3 linked regions of the Homo sapiens genome follow. The protein of the gene in region 1 purifies or fractionates together with the protein of each later gene. This does not show direct contact. Each region holds a gene or a part of one and is shown on either strand. Other genes may lie near its edges.

Region 1 (3,727 bases):
CCGTGGAGGTTATCAGTTGTCACTTCCACGAGAGCAGTCTTGGTGGCTGGATGGGGTCAGAGGCCTGATTGAAGTCAGGGGAGAATAGAAAGAAGATGGAGATGGTATGGCCATCTCAGTGATTTTTCCTGTGGAGCAAAGAAGTGGGTGGTAGTTGAAGGATGCAGTGGGGTCGGGGAACATGTCATTTTCCCAAGGAAAATACTGGATGTTTCTGTGCATTGGGAATGGTCCAGGAAAGGGGAAAATTATGGTGCAGGCAAGAGGGAATTGTTGCTAGGGGGCTATTGAGGAGTGACTTGGAAAGCAGGTTTCTCTAGGGAGGAGGAAGGGGCAGGAAGTGGCAGTGAGGAGGGCAGACACCTAGCTCACTGCCTGTCCAAGTGGTACAGGATTCACAGGGGAGAGCCCTGGTCCTGGAGACTAAATTTCAAACCTAGCCGGAAGGTGAGAGGATCATCAGAGAAGAGGGTGAGGACATAGGGAGGTTTGCTGTTGGTTTTTGGAGATGGGTAGGAGATGAGATGGGATTAAAGGCGCACAGACCTGAATGGGGTGAGGGATGACCTGAGAGTGTTGCACGTCTTGTGCAGCAAGACGTAACCAGGATGGCGGGCACATTGGAATTGGGTCTTGACAGGGATGGTTCTAGGCCAGTTGAGGAGTTGGGCGAGGCAGTGAAGGTCATAGGGGAGCATCCTGACATCCAGGCTGCATCATCCTCCTATGCAGGCGCTTTGAGCCCCGGGGAGAGGCACGGTAGCCAGAGTTCTGGGACCTCTCCTTCGAGATGCCTGGGAAGAAGTCAAGGAGGGAGAGATATTGAGCCAGATCTTAAGAGAGTTGATCATATTCCTCCCCTGATCACATCCTTCATTGACTTCCTGCAGCACTTGAGTAAAATCCAGATCCCTCCCTTGGCCTCTCAGCCCTGCACTGCTTGTCGGCCCGCCTCCCCACCCTCTCCCCAGTGCTTGCCTTGCCCTGCCCTCTTTCTCCTCCTCAGTTGGAGCCATTTTCTTCTGCCTGGGAGACCTGGCAGTTGCATTTCTTTTTTCAGGAATGCCCCTTCCTGGCTCTTTTCAGAGTTGGATTGGTCACTTCCTGATGTCTTCACTTGGTCACCTCTTTAGAGAGGCTCTTCCTGACCCAGTTACTCTGCCCCTATTTATGTCCTTAGTAGAACCTGCCTCATTAGTTTATTGCCCATTTTCCCCCATCTGAATGTAAGTACGCTAGGTGCTGTCTTATTCCTTTCTGTGTATGTAGAACCTACCAAGTACCTGGTGTCTAATAGCTGTTCATAACTACTTGTTGAACAAACAGATGAGTGAGTTGTTTGGATTTGGGTAACTACCAAGGAGAGCTGAGGGCATTGGCATAAGGTAATTGTTGGGAGTTAGATGACAAGAACATAATGCCGGAACATTCTACAGAGTTCTCTTGTGGGAGTCCTACTAACCCCTGCTGACAATTTGCGAGATGTCTTAGTCCATTCAGCCTGCTGTAATAAAATACCTTAGACTTTGTGATTTATAAACAACAGAAATTTATTTCTTACGGGTTTTGAGGCCGGAAGTCAGAGATCAAGGTGCACTCATGGGTTCTTGGTGAGGCCTCCCCCTTCCTGGTGTCACACTGTTGCCTCTGGTTATATCTTGACATGGCAGAGAGCAGAGAGCTTTAGTCTCTTTCTCGTCTTATTAGGGCGTGGATCCCATTCATGAGGACTCCATCCCCATGACCTGATCATCTCCTGAAGGGCCATCTTCCAGTACCATCACCATGGGGTCGAGGATTTCAGCAAACACTCAGACCATAGCACACAGGTTGAGACAAGTCATTTGCTTGTTGACTGAGTTATTTCATATTTACAAATGGCATTAATTTATCATGTTTCACTTCAAAGATCACCGCGTGGAAGATGGTAATAAGAGAAAAATGCCTAATAAACAATTTAAGCTCTCTCTGCCTTTCCCACTTAGAAGATTGTAAGTATACCTACCTTATCTATTTCCCTCACTGTTCCCATGGTAGGTGTGGGTGAGGTGGTTAGGGGGAGTGTAGAGAAACACAAGGAGGAAGCTGTCTTTCCAGGTAGAAGGAGCTAAGGCGGCAGAGGAGACCCCAAGCAGGAGCAGCTGGCGAGGCGGGAGGACAGTCAGGAGAGCCGGTGGGACATGGGAGTTGAAGAGAACATTGTAAGCAGGAGGGAGTGCCAAAGTGTCCTGTGCTGTTGAGTTGGAAAGGATACTGATGCTTCAAAAATGTTCCTTGGAATTAAGGACACGGAAGTGACTTGTGTCTGCAGGGTTTCAGCCAGGGGAGGGCTGAAGCTAGAATGGTCAAGGTGAGCTTCCCAACCACTGTGCCAGGCGTGTGCCAGCTGGGGGTCCCGTCTACTCCTACAGCCTCAGATAAGGATTCCTGGGAAATAAGGCACTGGGCTAGGAAGGGAACTACATGAAAAAGTGTGGTGGGCCGAAGGGCCTGGGACCTTGACTGCACCTCCCCAGGGGCTACACTGCCTGGGCTGTGCTCCAAGTCTGGTGTGCAGAGGGAGCTTTCCCCGGGAGGCCTGCCTGCTAGAGCCTGTGTAATTGCCTGTGGCCAGCCCCAAAATCACTCACAGTGCTGTGGTCTGAATGTCTGTGTCCCCCCCAGAATTCCTATGTTGAAACTTAATCCCCAATGTGATGGTATGAGGAGGAGGTGCCTTTGGGATGTGATTAGGAATGGGTTTCATGCCCTATTAAAAAAGAGGCCCCAGGCCACATGCAGTGGCTCATGCCTATAATCCCAGCACTTTGGAAGCCTGAGGCAGGAGGATTGCTTGGGCCCAGGAGTTCAAGACCAGTCTGGGCAACATGGCGAGACCCCGCTTCTACAAAAAATTAAAAAATTAGTTGAGCGTGATGGTGTGTGCCTGTGGTCCCAGCTACATGGGAGGCTGCGGTGGGAGGATTGCTTGAGCCTGGGAAGTTGAGGAAAAGAAGGATCCATTGCCCTTTCCATCGTGTGAGGACTCAGAAGGTGTCATCTGTGAACCAGAGATGCCTCACCAGACGCCGAATCTGCTGGCGCCTTGATCATGGACTTCCAGTCTCTAGAACTGAGAGAAATAAGTGTCTGTTGTTTATAAGCTACCCAGTCTACAGTGTTTTTTTAAGAGAATTAAATAGTTTATTAGCTACATACAATTATGGATGATACACAAGCTTCATTCCCATCTATAATGTTATCTGGTACCATTATTCAGTTTAGATATATTGCATGGGATGTGCCAACAATCATTTTTATAACTAATAATTCTGTGACTTTGCTTGGGTGATCCCCTTTGGTGGTGAACTTCAGGTCACAACAGTAACTGTCAGTTCAGCTACACCGAGCTCACTGAAGACAGTGGCTTCTCCACCCGAGCAGAGTGTAAATAAGTTCCAAGTAGAACCTGGCATCACCCTGAAGGAATTCTGACTTCACACTCTTGGGGGAGTTTACCAAGATGGCTTCCGAGGAGACTAACTTTACACAGCACGTTTTTTAAAAGGACACATTTATTCAGTCTCATGATCAGACTATTACATTTAGCAATCAACAGCATGAGTGCAAAAGAAAAAAATTACATTAAAACCCTTTGTTGGAATGCTTGGTACTTTCCACAGAACAGAAACGAAAATAACCTGTTAATAAAATTAGTCACAAATACAGTCCTGGAGTTTTTTGCTCA
Region 2 (3,600 bases), on another chromosome or scaffold:
CCGTCTAAATTGTACTTAAAAATAATGGCCTCAAATAATATTAACATATAATCTGTCTATTGGAGATCACTAACGTGTTAATCTACTCTTGCCAGAATAACTGATTATGCGAAACCTGGAATAAAGGTGTTCCTGCCAAGTAGCTTGAGATAATTAAAGCAAGCTGTTTAAACAAACAAAACAGCAAAAAGTGCATCTACTTATCCATATACATCAGAACTTTTTGACACTGTGTAACTAAACCAAAATAAATATACTGAATGCTGTGTTCACCGTTTTTCTGACGGATGAGAACTTTAAAGGTAAATGCTAATACATACGTGAATTTGGAAAACAGTACCTTTTGTATATGTAGGGTCCTGCATTTATTACAGAGTTCAACCAATAGAAAAGGCCGGAAAACCACAGCTGCCAGTGGTTTTGAATTATTTTCCCCCTTTTAAAGGCCTAACTTGATATTGAGTCTTCACACAGATGGCTGATTTGAAAAATATTAAGTAAAGCAAACAACTATTACAAAGTAGGCCTTCTCATATTATGCCATTTTCTACTACAGAAAACAAATGATAAGTATGTTTCAGCCATAATAATTTTTAGACACAAATTTGTATACCTGAGAGGTATTTGTTTACAATGTTAGGTCTTCAGACTGAACAGATGGGAGCGGCATTCCTCATCAAAGGAAGACCTTAAAAATCCTCCGCCAAAATCCTGCCTTTTGCCATATGATGCAACCATAGGCTACACCTGCTTCACCAATTTGTGTACCCAATAGTCATTCTCATGGCAACACAGCCACCCAGTTTCTTGGAAGCAGCTATGGTGAAACTGAAAAATGTGCCAGGGTGAATTCTAGAGGACATGGAATGCAAGCTTACTAAATAAATATGCAAATTTCAAAATAACAACTCAGAAGGAAAACTCACTTCTAAAACATTCTTGACCATATGAAACAAAAACAGACACAGGCGCTACCACAAGCTGGAACTCACGACTTCACTATCTTTTCCTGCCCGGATGCCCTCTCCTGTGTGATGAAGAATTATGCTCGTGGGCAGTGAAGAACACTGCTGACACTTACATAATATCAGAGCAGAAAGTAAATACAGGAAGGGCCAGCTTACAGCCTCATCACGTGGTGGCCAGGGCAGGCGGTGCTAAGGGTGATGTTGACAGATGTGTCAACCAAAACAAAGCAAGGAAGTCTTGCTAATAATGGAGAGGCTGCCGTCCTAAAACCAGACTGAAGGCGACTCCTGCCTGCTTCCCTTCTCAGTCGCTCTTGGTCAGAAAGTGCACGGGGCTCCACCCCGGGACTCGGCAATGGCTGCTCGGTCCAGTGCGACAGGGAGGGGCACGGCGGAAGGTGGCCAGGGAGGAGAAGAGCCACGTCCTGCTTCTGGGTGTGGGGCCTTCCGTCCACAGTGTCTGGGCGGTCCCCAGGTTTCTCAAGCCACGGCCCCGGGTGGCACCTGCCCGCTCCTCTCCCTGCAGAGAGGCTGCGTTCAGAAACCTCATTTTGCAGCACGGATGTTTTCTTACTTCTAGCCATTGGATGCAAGCCCAATTAGGAACACCGAGTTGCCTGGCCGCTGGGGGAGAAACAGGCTTGGAGGGTGAAATGACTCGCCCAAGGTCAGGCTGCTGATTACTGACGGCTACTGGGCAACAGAGGGGCGCCCGCGTCGGCGGGGCAGGGAAGGGGAGACCACAGCCCTGGGGGAGGTGACCGGCCGAGCGATCGCAGCCGTCAGCGGGAGGAGGCCACAGGACAGGGCAGCCGGACGTGGCATCCCCAGCAGAGGGCGGGGGGCCACAGCCTAGGGGCGGGAAGTCGGGGCCGCTCTCACCGGACGCTCGGGGTAGACGCGGCTCAGGTGGGCCTTGAGGTGGCCCACACTCCAGCCGCGGTCGCCACTCAGCTCCAAGTCGCGGTGGCGCTGGTTGGGGCTCTTCACCAGGAGCGTGACGGGCTCGGGTTCGGTCTCGGACTCCATGGCGGCGGCGGCGGTGTCGGGGCTCCGCTGCGCTCCTAGGTGCCAGGCAGGCGGCGTCTCAGCCGCCCGCAATCTCTGCAACGACAGTTCACGTCTCTGGGGCGCGCGCCCCCGCTTCGGGCGCCTTTTATAGAAGCCCCGCGCCCGGCTCTGCGGACAGAACGCTCTGTGGCTGCCGCCCATTGGCTGAGGCGGAGGCACTCTCCCAACGTGGCCCAATCGGCGTCCGGATCCGGGTGGCAGAGGGCGGACCGAGCACGTGGGCACGGGCTGATGCAACCCGCCGCGTCTGCGTCACCCAGAGGCGCGGCTGTGCCCCGGGAACCCGGGTTCGGTGGCCATGTTTGGGTGCGCTGCAGGCCGCGCGGGGAGCTTGGTCTGAGACCTGCGAGGCCCCCAGCTCGGGTGGCTGAGGGCGCCCGAGGCAGGGGGTGGGGAGTGGGGTATCCTAGCAGACCCCAGTTTAGCAGTCTCTGCAAATTCTTTCCTCACAAAGCCGCACCCCCACCCTTTTTCACCCCAGGTGTCAGTGCCCACTTCCCCTTTTCCTGCCTCTGTGGCCCCACGTGGAAACCTACGGGGAAGCCCGTCCTACAGGGGAAGCCTACCCACTCGAACCCTCAAAGAACGGCTGGGCGACCCCGAGTGCAAGCCCACCTAGGAGAACTCCACGTGCTCCTAAGAAAGACAACGAAGGAGCAAGGCCAGATTTTCCTTGGGCTGGGAGGATGGAGGCATCCAGGCAGCTGTTGCCAATTTCCCTGGGCCTCAGACTTGAACGTTTGGGACATCACCCTAATGATGATTGACAAGTCAGCCACAGTCCTGCTCACACTGGAGTCCCCCTCAAAACGCGTCACTTTATAAGATACTCACACATGCACCCGTTAAATTGGGGCTGAGACGAGGAGGGCGGGGTTCTCCGATTCCTGAAGTGGGACCATAAAGGCCTCTTTATTGTAGGCGTTCCCTCCTCCTCCTCTGTAGGAAAAAAAAAAAAAAAAAAAAAGGCTTGAAAAACAAAACTGACATTGCCCCGGCTCCCTCCTTGTTCCAACCCCCTTGGGACATCTGTTTTTTCAGGTGTTGTCAGGAGCTTGTCAAGGTCAGGAAGGTAACAGGAGGAGCCTGGTCTGGTTGGTGGGTATATTCATCTGCTGCAGCTGCCATAACAAAGTGCCACAAACTGGATGGCTTAAGACGGGGTCCCCAACCCCCCTGGGCCACGGACCACTATGAGTCCCTGGCCTATTAGGAACCAGGCGGCACCGCAGGAGGTGAGCCACCAGCGAAGCTTCATCTGTATTTACAGCTGCTCCCTATCGCTGCATTACCACCTGAGCTCAGCCTCCTGTTAGATCAGGGGGCATTAGATCCTCACAGGAGCCGAACCCTATTGTGAACTGTGCACGCAAGGGAACTAGGCTGTGCTCCTTACGAGAATCGAATGCCTGATGATGGGAGGTGGAGCTGAGTTGCTGATGCTAGTGCTGAGAGTGGCTGCAAATACGGATTAACATTAGCAGAGAGGTTTCACTGCACAGAGGCCATCATAAATCAATTGCTTGCAGACTCATATCAAAACACTATCAGTGAGTGGCAA
Region 3 (3,727 bases), on another chromosome or scaffold:
TCAGGGCCACAAGGCTCTTGGTCAGTGGACAGGTGACTAAGAATGTAGTAAGAGTGGAAACATTCATTTTCTTAACTGTTGAAGACAAACTAAGACAGACACTTCCTATTATGTACTTGCTTCCTGACAAGTTAGATTTTCTTCTAGTGAATTGAAAACAAGCATGAAAAAGCAAAGTTAGCTGAAGGTGTGTCCCATGACATATTCTTTGTCAGAGCAGTCATTCATGATAGGAGAAATACAGGAAGTAGAGAAACAAATTCCAGGATATCAGATGCAGGTTCCGGTTTAAAAGTATCATATTACCACCTCGAATGTGTAGGATGTGCTGGAAAACACAAAGTATGTACAAGATTTGTGACAAGGGAGAACCACACTTGAAATACCTCATTATAAAGTTTTATTTTTTAAACAAAAGCATGACGGTATAAACCTCTTAGTAATTTGAACATAGCAAGTATATTTTTGCCTTACAGCCTACAGCCTGTTCCTTCAGTTCTGAATCCCCCCAGTCTCCCAATCTCTTCCAAATCACCCAAGTCAGCAACTTCTTATACTCCAGATTTTTTTTGCCAACATAAAGCACGACCCAATCACTTTATCACATCACCCTTTAATTCTCTGCATAACACATCACTCTGATCATTTTTCTTGTTTATTTTTGTGTGTCTTGCTTCACCGGAAAGTAAGTTCTGTAAGAATAGGGATTTTTCACTGTCTTTTCATCATTTATCAACAATATAAGCACAAAGTAGGTGCTCAAATAGTAGTGTTATATTTAACAAAGCAAATTTTCCTTAATTATATACATTCACAGACATAAGCGTGATAAGTTTTATTTATTTATTTATTTTGAGATGGAGTCTCGCTCTGTCGCCCAGGCTGGAGTGCAGTGGCTCGATCGCCGCTCACTACAAGCTCCGCCTCCCGGGTTCACGCCATGCTCCTGCCTCAGCCTCCCGAGTAGCTGGGACTACAAGTGCCCACCACCACATCTGGCTAATTTTTTGTATTTTTAGTAGAGACGGGGTTTCACCGTGTTAGTCAGGAGGGTGATCTGCCACCCTTGGCGTCCCAAAGTGCTGGGATTACAGGCATGAGCCACCGCACCTGGCTGATAAGTTTTATTTTTAAAGGCAGGATAAGTTTTAAAGGTTACATATGGCTTTCAACTACAATTTATATGTGTGAAGTATTTCATATGAATGAATGATGGTTAGTGAAGGTGCCACGTTCCAAAGCTATTTCTAAAGGCATTTATTTAAAAGGCGTTTGACTTTTTTGCGGTACTTCCCCCACTCTACAGGTGTCTCAGTTTTATACTATCACCTCTCAGATGAAAAACAACAACCTAAATAGATATTTAAGATTATAAATTCTATAAGCATGGACAAAGCTTTCTGTTCCAGTCCCTGTAATGCCTAAGATAAATATGAGCAAAATAAGTATTAGCCAATTAGTTTTTCTAATAGGGTTTAAAAAAAAAGTAAAGGTAATTTGTATAACATAGGACTTGATTAAATAATCAATTAATTTACCGGAATAAAAACTTAATGGTAGGAAGTACTGATTTAAACTTGTTTTAGACGAGCCCTCTTTGGTCAGATTAAATGACTTACCAAACTAAAAATCCTGTCTGACCTTGGTACAAAGGTGCAGTTTACAGAATAGGCTAATGCCTATTTAATACAATAGCCTTTGCTGGGCGCGGTGGCTCACGCCTGTAATCCTAGCACTTTGGGAGACCAAGGCAGATGGATCAAGAGGTCAGGAGTTCGAGACCAGCCTGGCCAATATGGTGAAACCCTGTCTCTGTTAAAAAAATACGAAAATTAGCTGGGCATGGTGGCGCACGCCTGTAGTCCCAGCTACTCGGGAGGCTGAGGCAGGAAGATCGCTTGAACCCGGGAGACAGAGGCTGCAGTCAGCCAAGATCGCACCACTGCACTCCAGCCTGGGCGACAGAGTAAGACTTCGTCTCAAAAAAAAAAAAAAAAAAAAAAAAAAAAAGCCTTTAAAATTTAGTCATTTACCTAAAACACTTCTAACCTTCTTCAATAAATCCTCATGGGTCCAGCATGAATACACTTATATTTAAAGCCTCATCATTCCATAAAAACAGAGATCCAAGATGATCCAAGCTGTACATCCTTTCACTTGTCCAAGATTATCTTTCAAGCTACAAATCTTAATATTCTAGAATTTGGTGAGAAACTGTCTTAGTCTGTTTTCTGTTGCTTAGAACAGAATACCTGAAACTGGGTAATTTAAGAAATTTTTTTACATACATGGAGGCTGAGAAGTTCAAGGTCAAGGGGCCGTAGCTGGTCAGGGCCTTCTGCAAAGTCCTGAGGTGGCCCAGGACATCACACGTGGTGAGGGGGCTGAGTATGCTGGCTCACGTCTCTCTGCCTCTTCTTATAAAGCCACCAGTCCCATTCCCATGAAAACCCATTAATCCATTAATCCATGAATGGATTAATCCATTCATGAGGGTAGAGCCCTCATGACCCAATCACCTCTTAAAGGCCCCATCTCTCAATACGGCCACATTGGGGATTCAGTTTCAACATGAGTTTTATAAAGGACAAACATTCTAACCATAGCAGGAGTTCCCTATTTCCATTAAGACAAATTTCAGGATTTTAGAAATGATTGTTTCTGCTTTTGGTTTGTGCCTTTCCACAGTAACATTATTACAGCATTGTTCCAAACTATCTACACCAAATCAACAGTAACGATTTTAGCTGTCAGATAATTTACAGCCTGAGTATTTCAGGTATATATCTATCTCCATGTCACAGTTCAATGAACAAAATGCCAGCAGAATCAGGATATCAAGACATAAGAAAGTGTAGTTTAAAGGTCTTGCCAAAGCAATTAAACTTTGACCCTTGTTAACAATCAGCCATTACCATCTGACAGTGAAGAGCCAATGCAACATAGTTTTTATTGCCTACAGTTGCCCAAGGGAACCTAGGTAAACATTTGATAAGCTCTATGGAGAGTATGTTTATTCTTCCACTTATTCATCATCTCAAGGCATTAAAAGGAGGGAGGGGCCAGCATATAAGAATACATTTATTAGAACTGAAGAATGCATTACAAATTCCCAGGAAGAACCTTTTAACATTTTTTAATGTACTTCCTCATAATGACTTAATTCAAAACCAAACAAAGTGTCATGTAAATTCTGGTACAGTTTCTAATTTTAGCAATCTCAAAATCAGCATGCTTTAGAGAAGTGATTCTAACAACTTTCTTCTCTTTACAAATCTTCTGAAATCACACTTTGTCCTAACATCACAGTCTCTAGAGTATGGGACAACCTGGGTTTGAACGCAGGCTGTATCACACCTTGGGTGTGCTACTTTGGCTCAGTCAACCTTAATGTTCTCCTCTAAAATGTACCTAATATTCCCTGCTAGATGGGAAAGCTGTGAGGATATGCCATGTAAAGTGTTTAGCACAGTGCCTGGGGTATAGTAACTCAAATGTTAGTTGCCATTACCCATCATCATCAGATTCCCACAGTTAGTCCACAAACTAATACTTTCTTGGGAGACATACCTAATGCTGTTTCCTCATTAGCTACATTGCACTGTGACACATTTGCCCCCAGCGTATCTGCTTAACTTCCTTATCACAGCTCACAAAAACTTTACTACCCTACTAACCAAGATAAAGCATATTTTTACTAAACATTACCACTTCAGTCTTGGCAATA

Evidence for each region.
Region 2: the proteins of SFT2D1 (region 1) and HERPUD1 purify together in Homo sapiens (affinity purification with mass spectrometry; one large-scale study listed by BioGRID and IntAct). This does not show direct contact.
Region 3: the proteins of SFT2D1 (region 1) and TSPAN3 purify together in Homo sapiens (affinity purification with mass spectrometry; one large-scale study listed by BioGRID and IntAct). This does not show direct contact.

Annotation. Positions count from the first base shown.
Region 1 is NC_000006.12:166,335,912-166,339,638, reverse strand, and holds part of SFT2D1 (vesicle transport protein SFT2A), read left to right. Parts: intron 1-3,727. UniProt on the Homo sapiens protein: May be involved in fusion of retrograde transport vesicles derived from an endocytic compartment with the Golgi complex.
Region 2 is NC_000016.10:56,930,642-56,934,241, reverse strand, and holds the start of HERPUD1 (homocysteine-responsive endoplasmic reticulum-resident ubiquitin-like domain member 1 protein), read right to left. Parts: upstream 2,101-3,600; 5' UTR 1,998-2,100; coding exon 1,851-1,997; exon of another isoform or gene 948-1,850; coding exon of another isoform or gene 927-947; intron 1-926. UniProt on the Homo sapiens protein: Component of the endoplasmic reticulum quality control (ERQC) system also called ER-associated degradation (ERAD) involved in ubiquitin-dependent degradation of misfolded endoplasmic reticulum proteins.
Region 3 is NC_000015.10:77,064,591-77,068,317, forward strand, and holds part of TSPAN3 (tetraspanin-3), read right to left. Parts: intron 1-3,727. UniProt on the Homo sapiens protein: Regulates the proliferation and migration of oligodendrocytes, a process essential for normal myelination and repair.